Linked DNA regions of Homo sapiens. The protein of the gene in region 1 purifies or fractionates together with the protein of each later gene. This does not show direct contact. Each region holds a gene or a part of one and is shown on either strand. Other genes may lie near its edges.

What was found.
Region 2: the proteins of MMP13 (region 1) and FBXO45 purify together in Homo sapiens (affinity purification with mass spectrometry; one large-scale study listed by BioGRID and IntAct). This does not show direct contact.
Region 3: the proteins of MMP13 (region 1) and SPRYD3 purify together in Homo sapiens (affinity purification with mass spectrometry; one large-scale study listed by BioGRID and IntAct). This does not show direct contact.
Region 4: the proteins of MMP13 (region 1) and PEAK1 purify together in Homo sapiens (affinity purification with mass spectrometry; one large-scale study listed by BioGRID and IntAct). This does not show direct contact.
Region 5: the proteins of MMP13 (region 1) and MKLN1 purify together in Homo sapiens (affinity purification with mass spectrometry; one large-scale study listed by BioGRID and IntAct). This does not show direct contact.
Region 6: the proteins of MMP13 (region 1) and MYCBP2 purify together in Homo sapiens (affinity purification with mass spectrometry; one large-scale study listed by BioGRID and IntAct). This does not show direct contact.
Region 7: the proteins of MMP13 (region 1) and GID4 purify together in Homo sapiens (affinity purification with mass spectrometry; one large-scale study listed by BioGRID and IntAct). This does not show direct contact.

The regions. Positions count from the first base shown.
Region 1 is NC_000011.10:102,942,495-102,945,732, forward strand, and holds the end of MMP13 (collagenase 3 preproprotein), read right to left. Parts: coding exon 3,152-3,238; intron 1,873-3,151; coding exon 1,772-1,872; 3' UTR 501-1,771; downstream 1-500. UniProt on the Homo sapiens protein: Plays a role in the degradation of extracellular matrix proteins including fibrillar collagen, fibronectin, TNC and ACAN.
Region 2 is NC_000003.12:196,578,660-196,582,159, forward strand, and holds part of FBXO45 (F-box/SPRY domain-containing protein 1), read left to right. Parts: intron 1-3,500. UniProt on the Homo sapiens protein: Component of E3 ubiquitin ligase complex consisting of FBXO45, MYCBP2 and SKP1. Functions in substrate recognition but also plays an important role in assembly of the complex.
Region 3 is NC_000012.12:53,072,891-53,076,390, reverse strand, and holds part of SPRYD3 (SPRY domain-containing protein 3), read left to right. Parts: intron 1-579; coding exon 580-655; intron 656-1,171; coding exon 1,172-1,296; intron 1,297-1,606; coding exon 1,607-1,742; intron 1,743-2,919; coding exon 2,920-3,105; intron 3,106-3,500.
Region 4 is NC_000015.10:77,410,105-77,413,604, reverse strand, and holds part of PEAK1 (inactive tyrosine-protein kinase PEAK1), read left to right. Parts: intron 1-3,500. UniProt on the Homo sapiens protein: Probable catalytically inactive kinase. Scaffolding protein that regulates the cytoskeleton to control cell spreading and migration by modulating focal adhesion dynamics. Acts as a scaffold for mediating EGFR signaling.
Region 5 is NC_000007.14:131,397,376-131,400,875, forward strand, and holds part of MKLN1 (muskelin), read left to right. Parts: coding exon 1-1; intron 2-1,862; exon of another isoform or gene 1,863-1,865; coding exon 1,866-2,058; intron 2,059-3,500. UniProt on the Homo sapiens protein: Component of the CTLH E3 ubiquitin-protein ligase complex that selectively accepts ubiquitin from UBE2H and mediates ubiquitination and subsequent proteasomal degradation of the transcription factor HBP1.
Region 6 is NC_000013.11:77,096,595-77,100,094, reverse strand, and holds part of MYCBP2 (E3 ubiquitin-protein ligase MYCBP2), read left to right. Parts: intron 1-1,081; coding exon 1,082-2,725; intron 2,726-3,500. UniProt on the Homo sapiens protein: Atypical E3 ubiquitin-protein ligase which specifically mediates ubiquitination of threonine and serine residues on target proteins, instead of ubiquitinating lysine residues.
Region 7 is NC_000017.11:18,045,908-18,049,407, forward strand, and holds part of GID4 (glucose-induced degradation protein 4 homolog), read left to right. Parts: intron 1-3,500.

The DNA.
Region 1 (3,238 bases):
TGTTTCACCATGGTGCCCAGGCTGATCTTGAAATCCTGGGCCCAAACAATTGGTCTCCCAAAGTGCTGGGAGTGCAAACATGAGCCACTGAACCTGGCCTAAACATCTTTTCTTAAAAAGAAAAAAAAAGAAGGGTCCAGTGCAGTGGCCCACACCTGTAATCCCAGGACTTTGGGAAGCTGAGGCAGGCAGATCACCTGAGATCAGGAATTCAAGACTACCTGGCCAATATGGTGAAACCCCATCTCTATTAAAAATACAAAAACTAGCCGGGCATGGTGGCGCTCACCTGTAATCCCAGCTACTTGGGAGGCTGAGGCAGGAGAATTGCCTGAACTCGGGAAGTGGAGGTTGCAGTGAGCTGGAATCACACCACTGCATTCAAGCCTGGGCAACTGAGAGAGACTCTGTCTCCAAAAATAAAAATATTGGCAATGAACCCTCTTTGGGTGAGGAAAGATTGAAATTATACCTAAAGACAATGTACCATATAGCAATTGTCTGTTGAAAATATATTTTTATTATAAACAACATAAACACTTCCTAATACACTTTGCAAATATGCATTTCATTTTCTTTGCCTGAGTTTTTATCAACAGTGTCTCTGAGCACAATAGTTCTTCCCTTGATGGCCGATCATATATTCAATAAGTGCCAAGCACCCTCCCCAAGTATCAATAGGCACTGTGGGAAGTGCTGGGGGATTTTTTTAAATGCAGAGAAAAAAAGGCATCCTTCCATATCTCAAGGGATCACAATCTAGTAGACTGCTTTAAAAAAAAATTTGGATGTCTCTTTTTTAATATACATACTTCCACTTTATAAGATATATTTTATTTCATGCTATACAAGTCTTTAGAAAATAGCCTATATATCCAAGACAAACTGGACAATTAAATAATTAGCTAGGTAAAATAGGGTTAAAATGCAACTTTTAGTCTTAAATAATCAAATAATTTATGAAAAAGGGATGCCATGGCCTTAGACTATTTTGATAACAATTTTAACTTTGTAATGTGTGACTTCTGAAGAACCTGAAATATTTTAATAAAAAGACATCATCCTTCTTTATCCTTTATAATATGCAAAGGAATATTTGTCTTATATGAGAGCAGACTTTGAGTCATTGCCAAAAGTGAAAATTAAACAGAATTCAAAGGCCACATCTACTATTCTTACCACTGCTCTTTTGTCTCCTGTCTTTAATGACTTTGATATTTCGTTAGTGTCTGTGTGAAGAAGGGCACATACATCTGAATATCCTCAGTGCAAAATGAAAATTATTTATTTGGAAGTTACAGTCTATTATTACAGACATTTTCCTTTGGTTTATTTCTTTTATGTATGGCTCTCCCAAATTTCCATTTTCATACTATTTTATACTTTTTAGTAAGAATGATTTATTCATTATATGCATGTATTTACTTTATGCCCTTGTAAAATTTCCTTATAAATATATTTTTAAATTATGCTCTCATTGACAGACCATGTGTCCCATTTGTGGTGTGGGAAGTATCATCAACCATTGCTTTTGTACAGCAACAAGAATCAGATGCTCTTTAGAGATCCTCCATTTCATTACTCTAACATTCTTCAATGTGGTTCCAGCCACGCATAGTCATATAGATACTACATATTCAAAGATAACTTACTGAAGCTTGTTCACAGAACCAAGCTTTCTCCTGATAGCTCTTCTTCCCCTACCCCGCACTTCTGGAAGTATTACCCCAAATGCTCTTCAGGATTTAAATAACAATTTTTAAAAAGACACTTAACACCACAAAATGGAATTTGCTGGCATGACGCGAACAATACGGTTACTCCAGATGCTGTATTCAAACTGTATGGGTCCGTTGAAAAAATAGATATAACCTATAAGAAAAAGCATAAAGACAATTTCAGAGTTTGAAAATAATAAGGTTTTAATCCAGTTAATATTAATGGTTCAATCTCTTAGATCCCATTTGTAGGAATTTCAAACTTTTTCTTTTTAAACTCTATTAGTTCTTTAATAGTTGTTCCTTTTTAAATTTTTTATTTTTTTATTTTTATTTTTTAGTTGTTCTTTTAAGGTGTGAATCCTCCTACACAGTTTTGCTACTTGGATTATCGATTTTTGTGTGCGTATATGAGACAGAGTCTCACTCTGTCATCCAGGCTAGAGTGCAGTGGCAGTGATCTTGGCTCACTGCAACCTCTGACTCCTAAGTTCAAGTGATTCTCCTGCCTCAGCCTCCTGACTAGCTGGGATTACAGGTGCATGCCACCACTCCCAGCTTTTTTTTTTTTTTTTTTTTTGGATTTTTAGTAGAGATGGGGTTTCGCCATGTTGGTCAGGCTGGTCTTGAACTCCTGACCTCAAGTGATCCGCCCACCTCAGCTTCCCAAAGTGCTCAGATTGCAGGCATGAGCCACCGCACCCAGCCTATTTGTTATAAGTTATCAATAATATCTCTTTTCATAGTTAAAGGAGGTCGGTGAGGTCAGGCCTGTAATCTGAGCACTTTGGGAGGCCGAGGCGGGTGAATCGCTTGAGGCCAGGAGTTCAAGACCAGCCTAGCCAACATGGCGAAACTCCATCTCTACTAAAAATGCAAAAATCAGCCAGGCATGGTGGCAGGCACCTGTAATCCCAGCTACTCCAGAGGCTGAGGCAGGAGAATCTCTTGAACCCAGGAGGCGGAGGTTGCAGCGAGCTCAGATTGCGACAATGAACTCCAGCCTGGGTGACAGAGTGAGACTCTGTCAAAAAAAAAAAAAAAGGTTGAGAACATAATTAAAGTAAAAAGTCACTATATAGTTAAGGTAGTTATGAGTCTTTATATATAAATTACTTCCCACTCCACAGCCAGTTTGAATTCTGGCAATATCCTTGCATTTTGGCATCTTTAAGCATAGATTAAGGTAATGTTGAAGGTTTAGCATCTCGTATTTATAGAATTAGCAATCATTAAGTAAAATTCTTATTTATTCTAACCATGTTTTTTTTGGTTTGCTGTCTTTGTAGGTAGTCACACAGGAACAATTAATTCCTTAACTGCCATACATTTATTAACACATCTAGGTCCTATATAAAAATGCTTTGTACAGAAAAGAGTTTTGAGGGGCTACAGAAGCTCCTCTTTAAAGTCAGTGCAATGTAACTACTTACCATTTTTCTCATAGACAGCATCTACTTTATCACCAATTCCTGGGAAGTCTTCTTCTATTAGTCTCGGATAGTCTTTATCCATAATAT
Region 2 (3,500 bases), on another chromosome or scaffold:
GTCCAGGGGCTGTAGTTTGCCAGTTCATGCTCTATATCAAGCTTGTCCAACCCACAGCCTGCATGCAGCCCAAGATGGCTTTGATTGTGACCCAATGCAAATTCATAAACTTTCTTAAAACATTATGAGATTTTTTTGCAATTTTTTTTTTTAAAGCTGATTAGCTATCTTTAGTGTTAGTGTATTTTATGTGTGGCCCAAAACAATTCTTCCAGTGTGGCCCAGGGAAGCCAAAGGATTGAATACCCCTGCTCTAGATGGTCATCTTTCCTGTATCACGGCACATCCAAATCTTTTTCTAGGCTCCTTACCCCAGTAAATACAGCTCTGTGCATGCACATGTTTGTGGATTCAAAGCCCCTGGAGGCATCAGTGAGTTCTGCAGAGACAGGCAAATTCAGGCAAACTGCTGTATTTTTTATTCTTTTCATCTTAGGCTTAAGGCATACTCATTTGACTCAAGTTAAAATTATAGTTCCTATTTGTAAAAGCCGTATTTATTACTACAGACTTAACAGGGTGTAATATACAATAATCTGATAAGAAATTGGAAGTCTTTAAAGAACTATAGATTGCATATTTCAGAGCCACCTGTGGCGTGAAAGTTCCAGCCTCAGTAATGACCTCAAGTCAGGCATACTAAAGCAGAAGAACCAAAAATACATCCCATTTTCTGAGGTATAAAAGCTGGAAGGATTTTTTTCATGGAATGTTTCCTCACTATCCTTTTAGGCTCTGCGGATACTATAAGGAGAAGGGTGTGTAGACTTTATCACTAAAAACGAAGTCCTGTCGCCACCCTTGTAATGATTTTGTAAGTGAAAGTCCTTAAGTCTGTTTTTCAGAGAACATGCTCTATGGTTTTAGTCCTTTTAAATTTATTGAGATTTGTTTTATTCTAATATGTGGTCTGTCTGGATGAGTGTCCCATGTGTGCTTGAAAAAATGTATATTCTTTTGCTGAATGGAATATTCTGTAAATGAGAATTAGGCAAAGTCGATTGATAATGTTCAAGTCTTACATAGTGTTACTGATTTTTTTCTACCCTTCTATTATTTACTAAGAGGAGTATTGAAATCTCCATCTATCCTTGCTAATTTGTCTTTCTTCTTTTAGTTCTCTCAGTGTTTGCTTCATGTATTTTGGAGCTCTGTTACTACTGGTGCATATACATTTCTAATTGTTTTATCTCCCTGCCTGATTTATTCTTTTATTATGAAATGACTTCCTTTGACTCTAGTAATCCTCTGTCAATCTGTCTTTGTATTTAAAGTGGAGCTCCTACACAGCACATAGTTGGATCTTGATTTTTATCTAACCCAGTCTCTGTCTCTGACTTTTTTTTTTTGAGACGGAGTTTTACTCTTGTTGCCCAGGCTGGAAGTGCAATGGCGCAATCTCGGCTCACCGCAACCTCCACCTCCCAGGTTCAAGTGATTCTCCTGCCTCAGCCTCCCGAGTAGCTGGGATTAGAGGCATGCGCCTCTAAACCACGCCCGGCTAATTTAATTTTATATTTTTTTAGTAGAGAAGGGGTTTCTTTTTTTTTTTTTTCTCCTTTTGAGACAGAGTTTCACTCTTGTTGCCCATGCTGGAGTGCAATGGCATGATCTCAGCTCACCGCAACCTCTGCCTCCCGGGTCCCGGTTCAAGCAGTTCTCCTACCTCAGCCTCTTGGGTAGCTGGGATTACAGGCATGCGCCACCACACCCAGCTAATTTTTGTATTTTTAGTAGAGACGGGGTTTCACCACGTTGGCCAGGCTGGTCTCGAACTCCTGACCTCGTGATCCGCCTGCCTCAGCCTCCCAAAGTGCTCGGATTACAGGCATGAGCCACCATGCCTGGCGAGACGGGGTTTCTCCATGTTGGTCAGGCTGGTCTCGAACTCCCAACCTCAAGTGATCCACCTGCCTTGGCCTCCCAGTTGCTGGGATTACAGGTTGTGAGCCACTGCGCCCAGCTTCGGTCTCTGACTTTTAAGTGTTTAGTTCATTTACCTTTAATGTAAGTGTTGGATTGCTTGATGTTGTCCTTATCTCTGCCTCTAAAACTATGTTCTTGTTTTTTCCCCCAACCTTGTTTCTCTCTAATCTTTGCATTAGATAATTTCTTTTCCTTTTTTTTTTTGAGATAGGGTCTCGCTCTGACACCTCGGCTGGAGTGGTGCAGTGGTGCAGTGGCGTGATGATCTTGGCTCACTGAAACCTCTGCCTCCCAGGCTCAAGTGATCATCCCACCTCAGCCTCCAGAGTAGCTGGGACTACAGGTGCTCCCCACCAATGCCTGGCTAATATTTGTATTTTTTGTAGAGACAGGGTTTTGCCATTTTGCCCAGGCTGGTTTCAAACTCCTGAGCTCAAGCAGCTGCCTGCCTCAGTCTCCCAAAGTGCTGGGATTATAGGCATGAACCACTGGGCTTGACCTAAATTAGATAATTTCTGTTCTGTCTTCAAGGTTATAAATTTTTTTCTTTTGCCATCTCACCTCTGCTATTGAACTGGGCTAGTAAATTTTGCTTATTGTACACTTCAGCTTTAGAATTTCCTTTTTTTTCTTTTTCCTTTTTTTTTTTTTTTTTTTTTTTTTTTTGAGACAGTCTCACTCTGTCGTCAGGCTGGAGTGCAGTGGCACGATCTGGGCTCACTGCAGCCACCGACTCCCGGGTTCAAGTGATTCTTCTGCCTCAGCCTCCTGAGTAGCTGGGACTACAGGTGTGTGCCACCATGCCCAGCTAATTTTTGTATTTTTAGTAGAGATGAGGTTTCACCATGTTGGCCAGGATGGTCTCGATCTCTTGACCTCGTGATCCGCCCGCCTCGGCCTCCCAAAGTGAAAGTACTGGGATTACAGGCGTGAGCCACCACACTGGGCCTGGTTCTTTTTTAGAGTAAATTTCCTTTTCGAGATTCCTTATTTATTTACTTATACTATATTTGTAAAAAAATCTTTGGACATATTCATAACAGCTGCTTTGAAGTCTTTACCAAATCCAACACTTAGGACCACTTGGATTCAGCTTCTGTTGATTGCTTTTTTCCCCTAAATATGAATCACGCTTTCCTGTTTCTTTTCATATCTAGTAATTTTTTTAACTGAAACCTAGATGTGTAGATAATATGTAGTAGTAACTCCTGAATGTTTTGTTTCTAGAAACTGCTTTATTCTCTGAAAAGTATAGGTTTTCTTGTTTTAGTAGGCAGTTAACTTGCCTATACTCAAACTATAAACTCTGTCTCATGTGATGTGTGGCAGCTAATGTCTGCTCAGTTTTTTCAGCTTTGCTGCTTTTTTAGTCCTGGAGGTTTACCCTGTGCCTTTGTAATATAGTGGTCACTCAGGGATTTGGGAAGTTAATTCTCAGATTTTGGGGTTCATCCTTTCTGTGGTTCTGTTGCTTCTGGAGTTCCTCCTCTAAGTTTCCAGTTGCTCTGCCATCTCCCCACGTTTTACCCCAGCACCTAAAGATGGTAAGACTTCGCTTTCTCCACCCTGGGCTT
Region 3 (3,500 bases), on another chromosome or scaffold:
CCCCTTAGCTTGTGTGTGTTTCCTCCCTCTTTTCTGGCTTGAACCCCTTCCCTGACTCCTTCTGAGCCCATGCTCTCACAGAGTTCCACTGAAGGGGGAAGAAAGTAGTACTGTTTAACTAGAGGCAAGAAAGCTGAGGAGTGGGAACTGAATCACTGTCTTCCAATCGATGAAGGGCTTTGGTAAAGAGGATAGAGACCAGCCATTATTCTCCAGCTCCACTGAGGACAGAGCCAGAGGAAAAGGGCTGAAGCTGCAGCATGAGAGATTGAGGTTACACAGGGTTGTGAGACCTCTCTTAGGCAAGTAAGGGAGGCTCTACATTCTTTTCCTCCTGGAAATGAAGAAACCAGGCTTGCACTGGTCTGGTACGGGTTGGATTCCAGCTGGAGGCTGCGAGAGGAGTAGGGTGAGGTGACCTTAAGTATCTGGTTCTGATGTCTGCCGATGTACTGAAGTGCAGCCTGATGGATTCTCCTGTGTGCTGGCCCTTGCAGGGTAAGGGTGGGAGAAGCTGAGGCCCTCCCCCTACTCTTGGGCTAGGCTGCTAATGGAATTCCCCCCTCATTCCTCCTTCAGTTATCATGGAAACTCTGGTGAAGTTGGCTGCTACGTGGCTTCTCGACCCCTGACCAAGGACAGCAATTATTTTGAGGTGATCAAGGCAGTGGGTGGGCAGAGCAGGGGGTGAGCTTGGGGGTGAGATCATTAAGCCCCAAGAAGCTCCTTTACTAGATGTATGACCTGGGCCTTTTAATTTTCCATCAGGGCTGTCCTGTTGGCTGGGAAATAGGTGCAGGATAGCATGGCCCCTCATCTGAGAGATAGGTGCCCTGGAAACCTGTCACCCTGTCCCTTCTGCTCTCCTACCCCTTAGCTAGGTAGACTTTGACCCATATCCCAGACTTGACTCATGTCCCCTAACCCAAACCCACCATATAGGGACGTGAGTCCTATCTTTCTCCAAAGCTTTGGAGTAATTTTCTAAGTGAAATAGGCACCCACTCTCACCAATTGCCCCCTCTGAGTATCTTATCTTTTTTCCTGATTCCCATGTCCTTTTTCTTTTTGAGCCTCAGCGCCCTTTAATCTCTAAGTCCCCTTCCCCCACCCCCAGCAATTCATCCCATTTCCCAGCCCTGCTGACTGTGCCCTGCTTTCTTCTCTCCAGGTGTCTATTGTGGACAGTGGAGTCCGGGGCACCATTGCTGTGGGGCTGGTCCCTCAGTACTACAGCTTGGATCACCAGCCTGGCTGGTTGCCTGACTCTGTAGCCTACCATGCTGATGATGGCAAGTGAGTTGGCTCCTGTGCAACCCGGCCCTTTTCCTATGAATTTGGGAATCTTAGATCTGAAGAACTACCTTGGGCTGGCTTTTCCCATTGGGTGTTTCATAGACTTTTCTGGTCAGGACAGGGAAGTGGCCTGGCAGCACCCTTGAAGGCTTACAGACTAGAGGAGGGTGATGCTCACGCCAGGACGTAAGTGGGTACCATCACAGAATGACCAGGAGCAGCAAGATGAGGATGAGGCCTCTGCTGTCAGTGCTGGGGAGAAGTTGGGAGGCCAGGCTCGGGTCCTGTGTCTGTACTACTCTGTCTGTAGGCTGTACAATGGCCGAGCCAAGGGCCGCCAGTTTGGGTCAAAGTGCAACTCCGGGGACCGGATTGGCTGTGGCATTGAGCCTGTGTCCTTTGATGTGCAGACCGCCCAGATCTTCTTCACCAAAAATGGGAAGCGGGTGAGTGGGAAATAGTGGTGGGATTTACGTGGCTGAAATCTGCCCAAGGATTTGTGGGGAGTGATTAGGAAGAGTCTGCTGGCTGGGGCTTGCCCAGGGACCCTTGCACTGAGTTCCCATCTCCTCCAGTCCAGCCTCAGATTCTCCTGAAGTCTCTTGCGTGTAGGAGAAGATACTTCCCATGGCCAGAGGAAGCTGGGACATTGCCCAGATGACAGGCAGAGAGAGGCAAGTTAGTGGAGCAGAGGATGAGCAGGAATTGTGGGGAACAGAATTGGGTGATTTGGGGGAAGGTTTTGAGCAGATAAAAGAGAGGGGAAGATTATGGCCTGGCCATGTAAGCTGGAGGTCCTCTTTGGGTTTTGACTTGAGCACTTTTGGGGATATGTCCTTTCTGTGTCCTGTTTTCCTTGTTTCACGTCTCTTTCACTATCCTGTTCGTAGAGAGACTAGGCGTGGTGAGGAGATGGGACAGGAGCCAATAGTAGAGAGAGACACACAGCTCTCTCCCTTCTCTCCAACTCCATCTCCCACATTGGGAAATTGGTTTCTCAGGCCTTGGCCAAGGGGTCCTGCTGCCTTAGCATCTGCGCCTCGGCACTCTCCTGTCCAGCACACGTACTGAAAGTATTTGGCAGCAAGTCAGGAGACTTGTGTTTGTCTTCTAGCTCTGTACATACCTTGCTTAGCCAGGAGTACTTAGCACATTTGGAAACTTTTCTGCACCTCTGGGTTGCTTTTTTTTTTTTAATCTGTCAGTGTGTGTGATAATTATTGGTTGCATCATCTTTTTTTTTTTTTTTTTGAAATGGAGTCTCGCTCTGTCCCCCAGGCTGGAGTGCAGTGGCACCATCTCGGCTCACTGCAAGCTCCGCCTCCCGGGTTCACGCCATTCTCCTGCCTCAGCCTCCCGAGTAGCTGGGACTACAGGCGCCCGCCACCACGCCCGGCTAATTTTTTGTATTTTTAGTAGAGACGGGGTTTCACCGTGTTAGCCAGGATGGTTTCAATCTCCTGACCTTGTGATCCGCCCACCTCGGCCTCCCAAAGTGCTGGGATTACAGGCGTGAGCCACCACGCCCGGCTGGTTGCATCATCTTAAAAGTACCCTTGTGAGAATTAGGTGAGCTATGGAAAAGCAGGCCGGGTGGCAGCTCCGTCTTTCCCCCCACTGCAGGTGGGCTCTACCATCATGCCCATGTCCCCAGATGGACTGTTCCCAGCAGTGGGCATGCACTCCCTGGGTGAGGAGGTGCGGCTGCACCTCAACGCTGAGCTGGGCCGTGAGGACGACAGCGTCATGATGGTGGACAGTTACGAGGATGAATGGGGCCGGCTACATGATGTCAGAGTCTGTGGGACTGTAAGTAGCGGGTGGGAGGGTGGGAGGGGCTGGGTCGGAGGAGGCTGGGCAGAACACCTGTGGGCACATGGTCATGTCTGAATTGCTGGGAATGGGGAGTCGGGACAGTGTCCGTGTGGGGTTTGGCAAGATAGCCTAGGCTCTTGACATGAGTCCTTGAGTCCAGATCTGTGTTTTCTTTAGCACATGTTCTCTTTTCTTCACTTCCTCCTCTTCAGGGAACTCAGGTTCGCAGTTTGACCCTGGGAACAAGTAGTTCTGCTTTGCCTTTTTTGGTTCCTTCAGCTTCTGGTGTCTTCTACAGCCCTGCACAACTGCCTTTGAGGGGCTGGGGGTTGATCTGGAGGCAAAATGCCTGGCCCAGGCTTTTCATTCAAAGTGTTGTGGGGCAGGTG
Region 4 (3,500 bases), on another chromosome or scaffold:
GTGGCAGTTTCTTGGTCTTTTCTTATCTTTTATAACCTTGACACAAGTATTTTGTAGAATGTTCTTCAGTTTAGGTTTGTCTGATGTTTTCTCATGATTAGATTGGGGTTATGGATTTTGGGGGAGAGTACTGCAAAGGTGAAGTGCCCCTATTATTTCATACAGGAGGTGCATGATATCAAATAATTTATCACTTGTGAGCACTCTGTTACGGTGGTTTCTGCTAGGTTTGTCCACTGTAAAGTTACTATTTTTCCTTTCCCATAGTCCGTGCACTAGAAACAGGTTGCTAAGTGTAGCCCACACTTAAAGGGATGGAAATTAAACTCCACTTCCTGGAGGGAGAAGTATAAAAGAATTTGTGGACATATATTAAAACCACCACAGTAATTGGTAAATATTTTGAGAGAGCTACTTTGAGGCTTTGCCAGTATCCTGTTTCTGCCCACTAATTTTAGCATTCATTAGTGGATCTTGCCTGCAGCAATTATTGCTGTGGCTTCTGAAGGTACTTTTTTAAATTTTCCTCATTCTTTCTACATTTATTAATTAGAATTCTTCTATAAGGAAGGTTTTCCCTTCTATCTAATCATTTATCTCAGTTCAAATTCATAGATATTTATTTTATTCTTAGTGTTAGAATTAAATGCTATCATTATTTTGTTGCTCAAATTATTCCAGTTTTGGCCCTTGGGATCTCTTTTAGGTCTACTTCTGTGTCTTTTTGGCATATTTCTATCCTTTTTTTATGCGTATGTACATGCACACTTCTTTATTCTCTGACACTACCACATGCTTCAGGTTCATCTTGTTTTTTTTTCCTACCTCAGCCCTAGAATCAATTATTTCTCTAAGGAACCTTGGTTCCTTTCATTGGAGGATGATATTTTGAAGCCAAGATCTGGATGCTAAGTGTGCTCATTGCTGTGGAGTATCATTGCTCCTAGACTTTCTCAGTGGAAAGAACTAGGAAATGCATGTATGTATACTAATCCACGTATCCATGTACAATTATGTAAAAATCTGTATTTCTGTATATAAAAATATAAATATACTGATTGTCTGTGACTCTAACTGGATATGTTTTGATACAGATAGATTTACTGATGGATTGGTTGTAGAATGTGAAAAGAAAAGAGTAATGGATCACTCCAAGGTTTTTGACTTGAGCAACTGGAAGGATAGAGTTGTCATTAATAGAAATGAGGAAGACTTGAGGACGGTGCAGAGCAGGTTTTTGGGGAGAGTTTAGGAGTTCTGTTCTAGACTGGTTAAGTTTTTGAGATGTCTAATAGACATGCTAAGTAATAGAGATATTAAGTCAGCAGTTGAACATGGGAATCTAGAGTTCAGAGAAGAATGGTCCAGGTTACATTTGGGACTTGTCAGTATAGATTAGATCACCTGAGGAGTGAGGGTAGCTAGAGAAGAGAAGAAATTTAAGGACTGGCCCATGGGGCATTCCAGTCAGAGAGATAAGGAGGAGCAGTTCCACATAATGATAAGGGCTGAGGTGTGGTTATAGGGTGGATTTCATATCATTAATAAACACTTAATACCTATTATTTGCAAGATACCAAGTTATGTTTGGGGTTAACATCACTCCCTCCATAAATTTATAAGACAAATTACAGACTTAAAAAGAGAATAGCAGTAGAAGGCCACATACCTGATAAAGATATAAAGTACTAGGGGCTGGGTGTGGTGGCTCATGCCTGTAATCTCAGCTCTTTTGGAGGATGAGGCGGGAGGATCACTTGAGGCCAGGAATTTGAGACCAGCCTGGGTAGTGAGACCCACCCCCAACCCCCATCTTTACAAAAAGTAAAAAAGTATTAGCTGGGTGTGCTGGCCCATGCCTGTTTTAGCTACTTAAGTGGCTGAGGCAGGAGGATTACTTGAGTCCAGAAGTTCAAGGCTGCAGTGAGCTATGATCGCACCACTGCTCTCTAGCCTAGGTGACATCGCAAGACTGTATTTAAAAAAAAAGGTATGAAGTACTAATGAAGCTTATTAGAGAATGTGGACATGAGAAACTATGAACTCAAATATGTGTCAGCTATATTTAAACACCGATGTAAGCATGTGTGCGTCAAGAAACTTGTCAAGGCTTTATGTACACACTAGTAATTATCAACCAGTAGAAGTTTCTCCATATGTTAACATTAGTTTCGGAGGTTGTTTCTGTTCTTACTTCCTTTCCATTATTAGGTCTTGGGTTGTTAATTGTGCCTGTAGTCATTGGCTATCAATTAAGCCACTCAGTGAACTGATGAGGAGTGTTTCTGCTGCCCTCGACTTTTTAATTTTTGGCTCTCTGCTACCTTTTCACAATCAATAGGATTTAACTTCAGACTGCATACAATCAAATGTTTCCATTTACAAGCAGGGTTGTAAATCAAGCAGGGTTGGCCTTACCATCTGCCGTGAATTTGCCCCACCTTTTTTTTTTTTTAACTATTTCTTTCACATGTGGTCTTAGACATTCACATTTATCATCTGGTTATTAAAGTCAAACCCAAAATAACAATTTTAGAATTTTAAAAATAATTACAACATGTAGCCTGGTAAACCAAAGTTTTAGTAAAACATTTTAATTTCAACCCCTTTGCATTAAAAATAGGTAGGCTTTCATTGCCAGCTGATAAGAGGTGGTAGTATGGCATGAGGCAGGCAAATAGCACCTATCTAGTAATTATTTAAGTGTCAGTCACTCTTCAGGAACTACAAGAAAAATAACAGGTGTATCTACTTTGTAGGATAGGGGGCAGGTAATTGCAGGATTCCATTCTTATTTCTACCTCCGAATAGTCGACAAAGCTATTATCCAGGTTTATGGACCAGTGTGTTGTATTTATTAGTTGTGAGAAATCTGAGCATATTTATATGCTGAGTGGAAAGAGCCAATGCATTGAGTGCAAAGACTGTATCTTATTAGCACAGTTCCTAACAAGTAGTGGATATTCAAATATTTGTTGAATGAAAGATTTCAATAAGGTACTTTACCCTTATAAAATTTAAGACATGAAGATTTATTTAGCTTGTTCAAGAAAGCTGAAGATATTAAAAATTTTCATTGTTTAAGTCAGAGTTAGTGTAAAACAAAATAAATCTGTAAGGTAACATCCTCATTTTAGGCCAAGCCAAACAAATCATACCACTTTGTAAAAACATGATCACAGACGGGTGCGATGGCTCACACCTGTAATCCCAGCATTTTGGGAGGCCAAGGCAGGCAGATCACCTGAGGTCGAGAGTTCGAGACCAGCCTGACCCACATGGAGAAAGCCCATCTGTACTAAAAATACAAAATTAGCTGGGCGTGGTGGCGCATGCCTGTAATCCCGGGAGGCTGAGGTAGGAGAATCACTTGGGAGGCTGAGGAGCTACTCAGGAGGCTGAGGCAGGAGAATAACTTGAACCTGGGAGGCAGAGGTTCCAGTGAGCCGAGATCATGGTGAGCCAAGATCGTGCCATTGCACTCCAGCCTGGGCAAAAAG
Region 5 (3,500 bases), on another chromosome or scaffold:
GGTAGGACTGTGTTTTAAATCCTGACTTTAATGCCTATAAAAGGAGAAATATGTCAATCTCTTATCTTCATTGAGAATAATTTAAAATATTCAAAATAATAATAACAACAGTTAGCTAACATTTTATTAAGCACTTCCAGTCTGCCAGCTTTTAAGGAATCCTGATAACTCACTTAGTCATTATCACTCTATGAGACAGGTGCACTTATTATCCCCATTAGTTTATAGATGAAGAAATGAAGAACAGAGAGATTAAATAGTTTGCCTAGGATCACACAATTGTAAAGTGTTTGAGCCAGTATATGAATTCAGGCAGTTTGGCTCCACAGTCTGCTTTTATGTTATTATACCCATTTGACTCTGAATTTTGTTTTTTCACTTGTATTCATATAAATACTTAAAACATAGTTTTTAGTGGGATAGTTTTGCAGCCTAATGGAAAATTTAAGATGTGGATGTGATTTAGACTCCTAAAGTAGTCAACAGGGTTAAAAAATACTGCTGTTTAATATAACTGTAATATATATTGTTACATGGTAGTTATGATAAGTCTTTTTTAGAGGCCAAGAGTAAGTTAATTATAGTTAACTAATTATAATTAAGTTGTTAATTAATTATAGTTAATTATAACGTGTAAGGATTAGGTGTTTAATGACCTTTTATTAGTTAAGTCAGCTATCAACTGATTTGTTTCAAATCTTATACATCTTCCTAAACACATTATTTTCTTGCCTTATTAAAGGGTCATGCCTATAAGTAAATCATTGTTGTTTGATTATCATGCAGGCTTCCATGTCATCTGTTTGTTTGAATAGTGGTATACTTAGGAAGTTTGAGGTAGTCCCAGAACATATTCCTGAAGTTGAGATTTTTTTAAAAAAATCCTTTTTATAAGATTGTATTTTTGGCATCTATCCTATTAGGGGAAAATTTTAATAAATTAAGTGCCTGCTTTTTGGATTCCAGTTAATTGAGATGTCTACTTTATAGCTGCTTAATAGATGAGGTAGTTCAGGCTTAGAAAACAATTAAATTGGGCCGGGCGCAGTGGCTCACACCTGTAATCCCAGCACTTTGGGAGACCAAAGTGGGCAGATTGCCTGAGGTCAGGAGTTCAAGACCATCCTGACCAACATGGTGAAACCCCGACTCTACTAAAAATACAAAAATTAGCTGGGCGTGGTAGCGCGTGCCTGTAAGCTCAGCTACTTAGGAGGCTGAGGCAGAATTGCTTGAACCTGGGAGGCGGAGGTTGCAGTGAGCTGAGATTATGCCGCTACAGTCCAGCCTGGGAGACAGAGCAAGACCCTGTCTCAAAAAAAGAAAGAAAAAAAAAAAGATTAAATGTCTCTTTTTGATGATTTTTGAGTCATAAAATGTGTTTGTAAATTTGAAATATCTGTATACTTGATACTTGTCATTCAAGTAATAGTTTATTTTTAAAAACCAAAAATAGCATAATATAATTTATGTGGATTATTTAATGTTCTTTTGTGCTCTCAGTACCTGCATTGTAATGGGATTAATAGATGCTATGGAGTTATAATTTTTACAGTATTAAGTGGAGTTTAAGAAATAGATGTTCTCCCTTTCTTCAAAGTTGAGGCTCTGGAATTAGGTTTGGTTTAATAACTTTTGGCTACATATTTTGTGACCTTGAGCAAGTTATTGGAACAGGCCAAGCTTTAGTTTTGCTAGTTAAAAGAGCCAAATAATGATACCTAATGAATCAGGTTAGTAAACTGCTTGGCACATAGTGTTAATAAATGCTCAGTGTAGATTAGTTATTTTTACTGTTGTTATTGTTTCCTACAGTATCATCTAACCAAATCTCTTCTTTCCATACTTACTCTGTGTTCTAGTAGTACCGTGAACAGGAAGCTATTCGCCTTTGCCTAAAACACTTCAGACAACACAACTATACAGAAGCTTTTGAGTCACTGCAAAAGAAAACCAAGATTGCACTGGAACATCCCATGTTAACAGATATTCATGACAAGCTGGTGTTGAAGGGTGATTTTGATGCTTGCGAAGAGTTGATTGAAAAGGCTGTAAATGGTATGAAACTTAGATTGGTTATTAGGGTAAATTCAAGTACATACGGGAAACTTTTTCTCAAAAATAATATAGGCTTATGCCAGTTATTACTGTAATTTTTTTTCTTGGTTTTTTACTCGGTTAAAGATTGTTATCTCTTTGGATTAGGGACTTCTTTCATGTAAAATAGATCCATGATGTAATGAGACTTAAAAAATTGAAATGTACTTGAACTCACATATAAATTTAAGTTGTCATCTTGGGAAACCATGCACTTACAAATGATTAACTAGCATTAAACTGTATCAGAAATAATATTTTGATATTGGTAGCCAATATTCATTAACAGTGTAGTTTTGAGGAGAAGGGGGGCTAGATAATAAAAAATGTTATTAGTAAACAATTATATATAAGGAACAAGGAGATTTGTATTGAAAACAACTTCCTTGTGGTGTGAATGCTATATAATTGCTGATTTTCTTGTGTGACCTGTAGTCTGGCTTTGAAAGAAATGTGAATAGTTGAACATCTGTATTATCTCCCAGGGTATTGGCTTTGGAGGGTAACACTCATTTGGATTTTTAAGGTCTGATGTGTTTTGTTATTTAAACTAAAAAGGGACTCTGTTGTTGCTTATAGTATGACTTTTTTTTTTAATCTTCCTCAGTAACTTTCATAGTGACAAACAACAGAATAGTTGCACAATATAAAACTTGTGGAATTGAATTTGGTGCATCCTTTATAGGAAGAAATAAGAAATAATAGATTATTCAGTGGTTTGCTCTCATTTTAATTTTATCACTGTTATTATCGTCTATTATTAGGTATTCATATTTATCAGATATTGGGTAGCTAAAAAAAAACCAGACTTGTACTGCCTTGAGTTTATAAATTTAAAGTTAACTTAAAATGAATTGCTTTGAGCTCCACTTTTTGAAATATGACAAATCTGCTTCTAAGCCTTGTGCATTGTTATTGCTTACTTGATTGATGATGATACTTGCAAATAAATGATAGGTATGTTTGAAATTGAGTATATTTTGGAGTATAAACAAACAAATAACTAATCTCTTAACAGACTTTAAAATGCTACCAATAAAAAAAAAATATATATATATATATATATATGCCATTTCTAGGAGTGAATTCTGTGGGTTTTTTTTAACCTCATAAGATGAGGGAGGCATAGGTAATTTTAGGGCTTTTTTGTTTGTTTCAGATATTTATCAGTAAGGCATTTGATACCATTTTGTGAAGGGAAAGCAAAACAACAGCCACAGGCAACTCTACAGTTAATAAGCTAAAAACAGTTATATTTTAAAGGTCTCTTTAGTGACGTACTCAGTTGGTTAAGATTAGCTGATAAAAATCTTGTGCAGTTTTGATATCTACAGAGACTTAACTTATCCTTTGGCTCTAGAAAGGAACCAAGTTTAGAGAAATTAGTAGTTGCTCAATTCTTG
Region 6 (3,500 bases), on another chromosome or scaffold:
TGGATTTTCAGTTTTTTATACCACTTGAAACCCTTCAGTCAGATTGCTTTTCTCCTAACAACTAACTGGTATCACTTGCACTAAGAGTAGAAGTTTTTATTTTAAGGAGGAAAGGTGATGTTGAAGTTTGTACCATTTACTTGGGTCACAGACAGCCTGGCTCTAATGCCTCAAAGAAAAGCATAAAATAGAATGAAGGAGAGACACTGAATGAAGGCAGGGTGCTAAAAACAATTAATGTCCATGCAGAAACATCTAATGCTTTGCCTTAGAAAAGGGAGGTGATTCTTCTTTTCATCCTGTTTTTCTGTCATTCTCCTGACTCCTTGTTTTGAGGGTCCACAGTTCAGACTTTTACCACTCATTCTGAGGATCCACCGTTTCTGTGGTTTCCAAGGGAACACAGGCTCTGAGTTCTAAGCAGCTAAGCTTCCTGAACTTTTGGAGTGTAACCTGTTTATAAATAATTAAATAACAGCTTCAGGGCATTCATGTGCTCATTGTAAACTAGTCTAATCTGATCATAAAACAGAGTGCCTCTTAAGCAACTCTTTGTTAGCCTAATTGTATGCATACACTTAAAAATTATAATTGTGTCTATGCATAAATTCAGTTCTCTAATTCAACAAAACCCATACCGTTGCCCTAAGGATGCGAGGTATCACTCTGCTGGAAATTTAGCTCTACTCTACATTTAAAATACAAGTTTTCACATTAAATAATTTCTTATTCCCCAAAAGATTAATTTCTGTCTCTTTCTAGTCCCTCACTGAATTTAAATTCTAACTAGTTATTGCACTAGGGCAGAGGTTGAGATATCACTGATAGTTCACACTGGATTTGTTCAACCTGTTGTTTTGCGTCCATGAAAATAGTTTTTGGTGGTAATGTTGTGTAATGATGTGTAGAAATTTTATTAGAAATATTTCCCCCTTCTTTCCTTTATTCTTCAAGTATTTTAGTATGTATGACAAACAATATAAATTTTGTAGCTATGTTTTTTTATTTCAGTGTTTAGTGGCTAAATTATCAGTAAGTTATAATTTTATTAATAAGTTTCACTGTAAAATGGACCATACAGGTGATCGAGGAAACATCTCAACATCTTCTAAACCAGCCTCTACATCAGGAAAATCAGAGCTGTCCTCTAAACACAGCAGATCGCTTAAACCTGATGGACGTATGAGCCGGACTACTGCTGATCAGAAGAAGCCAAGGGGCACAGAAAGTTTATCTGCTAGTGAATCCCTCATCTTAAAATCTGATGCTGCAAAGTTGAGGTCAGATTCCCACAGTAGGTCATTATCCCCCAACCATAACACCTTGCAGACATTGAAATCTGATGGGAGGATGCCTTCTAGCTCCAGAGCTGAATCCCCAGGACCAGGTTCTCGGTTGTCATCTCCTAAGCCAAAGACTCTCCCAGCCAATAGGTCTAGCCCATCGGGTGCTAGTTCTCCACGCTCCTCCTCACCACATGATAAAAATCTACCTCAAAAAAGTACTGCTCCTGTTAAGACAAAGCTTGATCCTCCTCGGGAACGTTCTAAATCAGACTCTTACACACTTGATCCAGATACCCTCCGCAAGAAGAAAATGCCCCTCACAGAACCTTTGAGAGGACGGTCAACGTCACCAAAACCAAAATCAGTACCAAAGGATTCTACAGATTCCCCTGGATCTGAAAATAGAGCTCCCTCTCCCCATGTGGTACAGGAAAACCTCCACAGTGAGGTGGTCGAAGTCTGCACCTCAAGTACTTTAAAAACAAATAGTCTAACAGACAGCACCTGCGATGACAGCAGTGAATTTAAGAGTGTGGATGAAGGTTCAAATAAAGTTCATTTTAGCATTGGAAAAGCACCACTGAAAGATGAACAGGAAATGAGAGCATCTCCCAAAATAAGTCGAAAATGTGCTAATAGACACACCAGGCCCAAAAAAGAAAAATCGAGTTTTCTTTTCAAAGGAGATGGATCCAAGCCTTTAGAGCCAGCCAAGCAAGCCATGTCTCCTTCTGTGGCCGAATGTGCCAGAGCTGTGTTTGCTTCCTTCCTCTGGCATGAAGGCATAGTACATGATGCAATGGCTTGTTCTTCTTTCCTAAAGTTTCATCCTGAACTTTCCAAAGAACATGCTCCTATAAGGAGTAGTTTAAATAGCCAACAACCTACAGAGGAAAAAGAAACCAAGTTAAAAAATAGACATTCATTAGAAATATCATCTGCACTGAATATGTTTAATATTGCACCCCATGGACCAGATATATCTAAGATGGGTAGCATCAACAAAAACAAGGTATTGTCTATGCTTAAGGAACCACCTCTGCATGAAAAATGTGAGGATGGGAAAACCGAGACCACTTTTGAAATGTCCATGCATAACACAATGAAGTCTAAGTCTCCTCTTCCCTTAACTTTACAACATTTAGTGGCTTTTTGGGAAGACATCTCTTTGGCTACTATCAAAGCTGCTTCCCAGAATATGATTTTTCCAAGTCCTGGTTCCTGTGCAGTTCTTAAAAAGAAAGAGTGTGAGAAAGAGAATAAGAAGTCCAAAAAGGAAAAAAAGAAAAAAGAAAAGGCAGAAGTTAGGCCCAGGGGTAATTTGTTTGGAGAGATGGCCCAGCTGGCAGTAGGAGGACCAGAGAAAGATACCATCTGTGAACTGTGTGGGGAGTCACATCCATACCCGGTGACCTATCACATGAGACAAGCTCACCCAGGTAAATGATACTGTTGAATGTACGTATAAGTGCTTTTTTCTTTAATGAACCAGATCACTTTATTTGAGCTGTTCTATGAATTTTGTCAAAGGATAGGGAATTTATAGTATCTTAGAATGTCATTTTTAAAGTACATTATCAGTACAGGGTTTTGTGAAAAACAGATAAATTCTAATATTATGATGGCCAGGTCATTTAGTGCTATTTCACTTTCATGTAGCATGTTTTAAAAAATATTATGTGTTACCCAAAGGGTGTGCCATTAATGTGTCTGTCTCACACAGCAGAAACAGTGGCATGCCCATACACACAGGGCATCTCCTTTGATTTTACTATTTTCCTGTTCAGAATTGCAAATTAAATTAGATTAGATTGATTTCTATAGGCTTTTTCCTACGGAAGTGATATTGTTTTATCAGAAGACTGCATTTTCAGTAAATGTAATGATTTCTGTAACATTGACTAATATTCCAAATTCACCTAATACAAATTTGGTTAATTTTTTTCTTTGTCTACATATTATACCTCAAATGTCTTATGAATATGTGATTTCTGAAAATATATCATTGTTATAGAACTTTTATACTTGTATTGTCTAATTTTATTGACATAATTAAGTATATCTAAATATACCTATATTCTATCTCTCTTTTAATATGCCTGATTAGAAACTAAGTATCTCTCATATTTGGGGCATCATTTAATTGATTGCTTTTTGATCAAGTAAGCTATTTTTCTGATATAGTTAATAGCCTGAAAAATAAGATATCTACTT
Region 7 (3,500 bases), on another chromosome or scaffold:
AAAGAAAAAAAAGGGGAAGTGACCATCTAGTTTCCAGCAGAAGTACCTGCTGTGCAGAGTATTTTATTTTCTTTGAACCAAGTTTTTAAACCTCAGAACTCCTGGGACTTTAGAAAGCAAGGAGGAGCATCCTTTCTTTTCCATTAGCAAGGAAACAGGAAGTGGAAGGAGGTAGCTGGACTGGCCCTCCGAATGCTGGGAATGCCCAGGCTGGACCTAGCTGCAGGGGGCCTCTGGCCTTTGTCAGCTCTCATGGTCTGATGATCCAGCAGTATTTGGACAGAGTGCTGTGCTGGATGGGGCAGTGGAAAGGAGCTGGGGTGGCATTCTTCTTCTGCCCCTTCCTGCATCTGTGACCTTTAACTTCTTTCAGTGTCCTCATCTGCGAAGTTGAGAATTAAAAATTCCTGCTCCAGGCTGGGTGCTGTGGCTCACACCTGTAATCCCAACATTTTGGGAGGTCAAAGCAGGAGGATCACTTGGGGCCAGGAATTCAAGACCAGCCTGGACAGCATAGCAAGACCTTGTCGCTACAAATAATTTTTAATAAATTAGCCAGGCATGGTGTTGTGTGCCTGTAGTCCTAGCTACTCAGAAGACTGAGGCTGGAGTATCGCTTGAGGCTAGGATTTGAAGGCAGCAATGTGCTGTGATCATGCCTGTGAATAGCCACTGCACTCCAGCCTGGGCAACCTAGGAAGATCCTCTCTCTTTAAAAAAAAAAAAAATTGGGGTCGGGCGTGGTGGCTCACACCTGTAATCCCAGCACTTTGGGAGGCTGAGGTGGATGGATCACCTGAGGTCAGGAGTTCAAGACCAGCCTGGTCAACATGGTGAAACCCCATCTTTACTAAAAATATAAAAATTAGCTGGGCATGTTGGCAGGCACCTGTAATTCCAGCTACTCAGGAGGCTGAGGCAGGAGGATCGCTTGAACCCGGGAGGCGGAGGTTGCAGTGAGCCAAGATTGCACCATTGCGCTCCAGCCTGAGCAACAAGAGCGAAACTTTGTCTCAAAAAAAAAAAAAAAAAAAAAAATCCCTGCTCTGTCTAAGACAATCAGTGGACTTGTTCTGGGGGTAAGGAAAGAATGTTAGAGAAAATGACAGACTCAAATATGGTACTAATATGTGATTCTCTTGTAAAGTCCTGATGAGCCTCAGTCTTAAGACAAGTTTCTGGCTCCTGGTTCCTATCTGCTTTTCTATTAGAAGCTTAACTGATTAAGGATCTCCTATGAAGTTTGTTGTTGAGACCAAAGGTATTTCTTCTTTAACTCGAGAATTGTATCAAATCAAGTAGGAGTAGAAGTGATAGCAAAATACAGGATTCCAGCCTTTGGGTTTGTGGTAGGAGAAAAGATACTAAAACAGAATATGCTCAACTCTCAGGTAGCCAAATACATTAGTTAACTGGGTGCAGAACATAAACACTGAATTTCATAAGGAAACCAGCAAGTGTGTAAGGCATTGGAATGTTAACGCTGACTCCAAAACCAGTCATTTGGGTGATAACAAGCTGCACAGAAATGGTAAGTAGCATTCGAAATCTTGAAGAAGTATACAGAAATGCTAATGGCATTGAGCTCTCCATCGGGAACAAGTAGCCCTTCCTTTAGGAAGCCCCCGTGAGTCGAGAGCAGCAGTCAGGCTCCTTTGAGGAGGGGGCACTGACAATGGCCCTTCAATGGGGGCTAACCCAAGGGGAGCCCTAGGCTCTTAACAGAACCTCTGCAGATGGCGTGGCCTCGATGAGCACATACCCTCCCCAGAGTTGCCTGTTCCTGGTCCAGCAATAAATAGACCACGTTATGCTGCTGCAGGGGTGTTGCGTTAAAGCAAGTCCTGCTCAGGCCTTAGATGTAGAAGAATTCTTTTTAAATAATGTTTTTTAGTAGCTTTATTGAGATAATTCACATACCATACATTTCACCCATTTGAAGTATACAGTTCATTGGTTTTTAGTGTATTCACAAAGTTGTGCAACTATGTGATAACTTTTTTTTTTTTTTGAGATGGAGTCTCGCTCAGTCACCCAGGCTGGAGTGCAGTGGTGCAATCTCGGCTCACTGCAAGCTCCGCCTCCTGGGTTCACGCCATTCTCCTGCCTCAGCCTCCCGAGTAGCTGGGACTACAGGTGCCCGCCACCACACCCGGCTAATTTTTTTGTATTTTTAGTAGAGATGGGGTTTCACCGTGTTAGCCAGGATGGTCTCGATCTCCTGACCTCATGATCCGCCTGTCTCGGCCTCCCATAGCGCTGGGATTACATGTGTGAGCCACCACGCCTGGCCGATAACTTTTTTTTTTTGAGACAGAGTCTCAGTCACCCAGGCTGGAGTGCAGTGGTGTGATCTCACCTTACCACAACCTCTGCCTCCCAAGTTCAAGCGATTCTCCTGCCTCAGCCTCCCGAGTAGCTGGGATTACAGGCGTGCGCCACCCTGCCCAACTAACTTTTATTTTTAGTAGAGACAGGGTTTCGCCATGTTGGCCAGACTGGTCTCGAACTCCTGACCTCAAATGTCCACCCTCCTTGGCCTCCCAAAGTGTTGGGATTACAGGCGTGAGCCAACGCACCCAGCCTGATAACTTTTAAAATTATAAGTCTAGTATATGGTTGCCGTAGATAATAGTAAAATGCAGAAAACTACAATGAATCTTTGAATAAATTTTGTACCTGTATTTGGGTTTTTTTTCTTTTCCATTTATGTTTGTTAAAATATCAATTTTTTATTTTTATTTTTTGTTTTTGAGGAAGAGTCTTGCTCTGTCACCCGGGCTGGAGTGCAGTTGTGTGATCTCAGCTCACTGCAACTTCCACCTCCCAGGTTCAAGCAATTCCCATGCCTCAGCCTCCCGAGTAGCTGGAATTACAGGCATGTGCCACCACACCTGGCTAATTTTTATATTTTTAGTAGAAATGGGGTTTTACCATGTTGGCCAGGCTGGTCTTGAACTCCTGACCTCAGATGAACCACCCACCTTGGCCTCCCAAAGTGCTGGGACTACAAGCATGAGCCACCGTGCCTGGCAAAAATATCAAATTTTTAATTTATTTTAATTAAACTATAATTTGGGTTTTAGTCATAGTAGTTGCCTTCCTCACGTATACAGTATGGAAAAGTATCTACTAAAATGGAGATAGGCCAGGCACAGTGGCTCATGCCTGTAATCCCAGCACTTTGGGAGGCTGAGGCAGCTGGATCGCCTGAGGTCAGGAGTTTGAGACCAGCTTGGACAACATGGTGAAACCCCATCTCTACTAAAAATACAAAAATTAGCTGGACATGGTGGCGGGCACCTGTAATCCCAGCTACTCAGGAGGCTGAGGCAAGAGAATCGCTTGAACCCAGGAGGCAGAGTTTGTGGTGAGTTCAGATCATGCCACTGGACTCCAACCTCGGCAACAGAGTGAGACTTCGTGTCAAAAAAAAAAAAAAAAGGAGATAAGTGTCAAAAAAAAAAAAAAGGAGCTAAATGGCCTCTTAGCTACCTCAC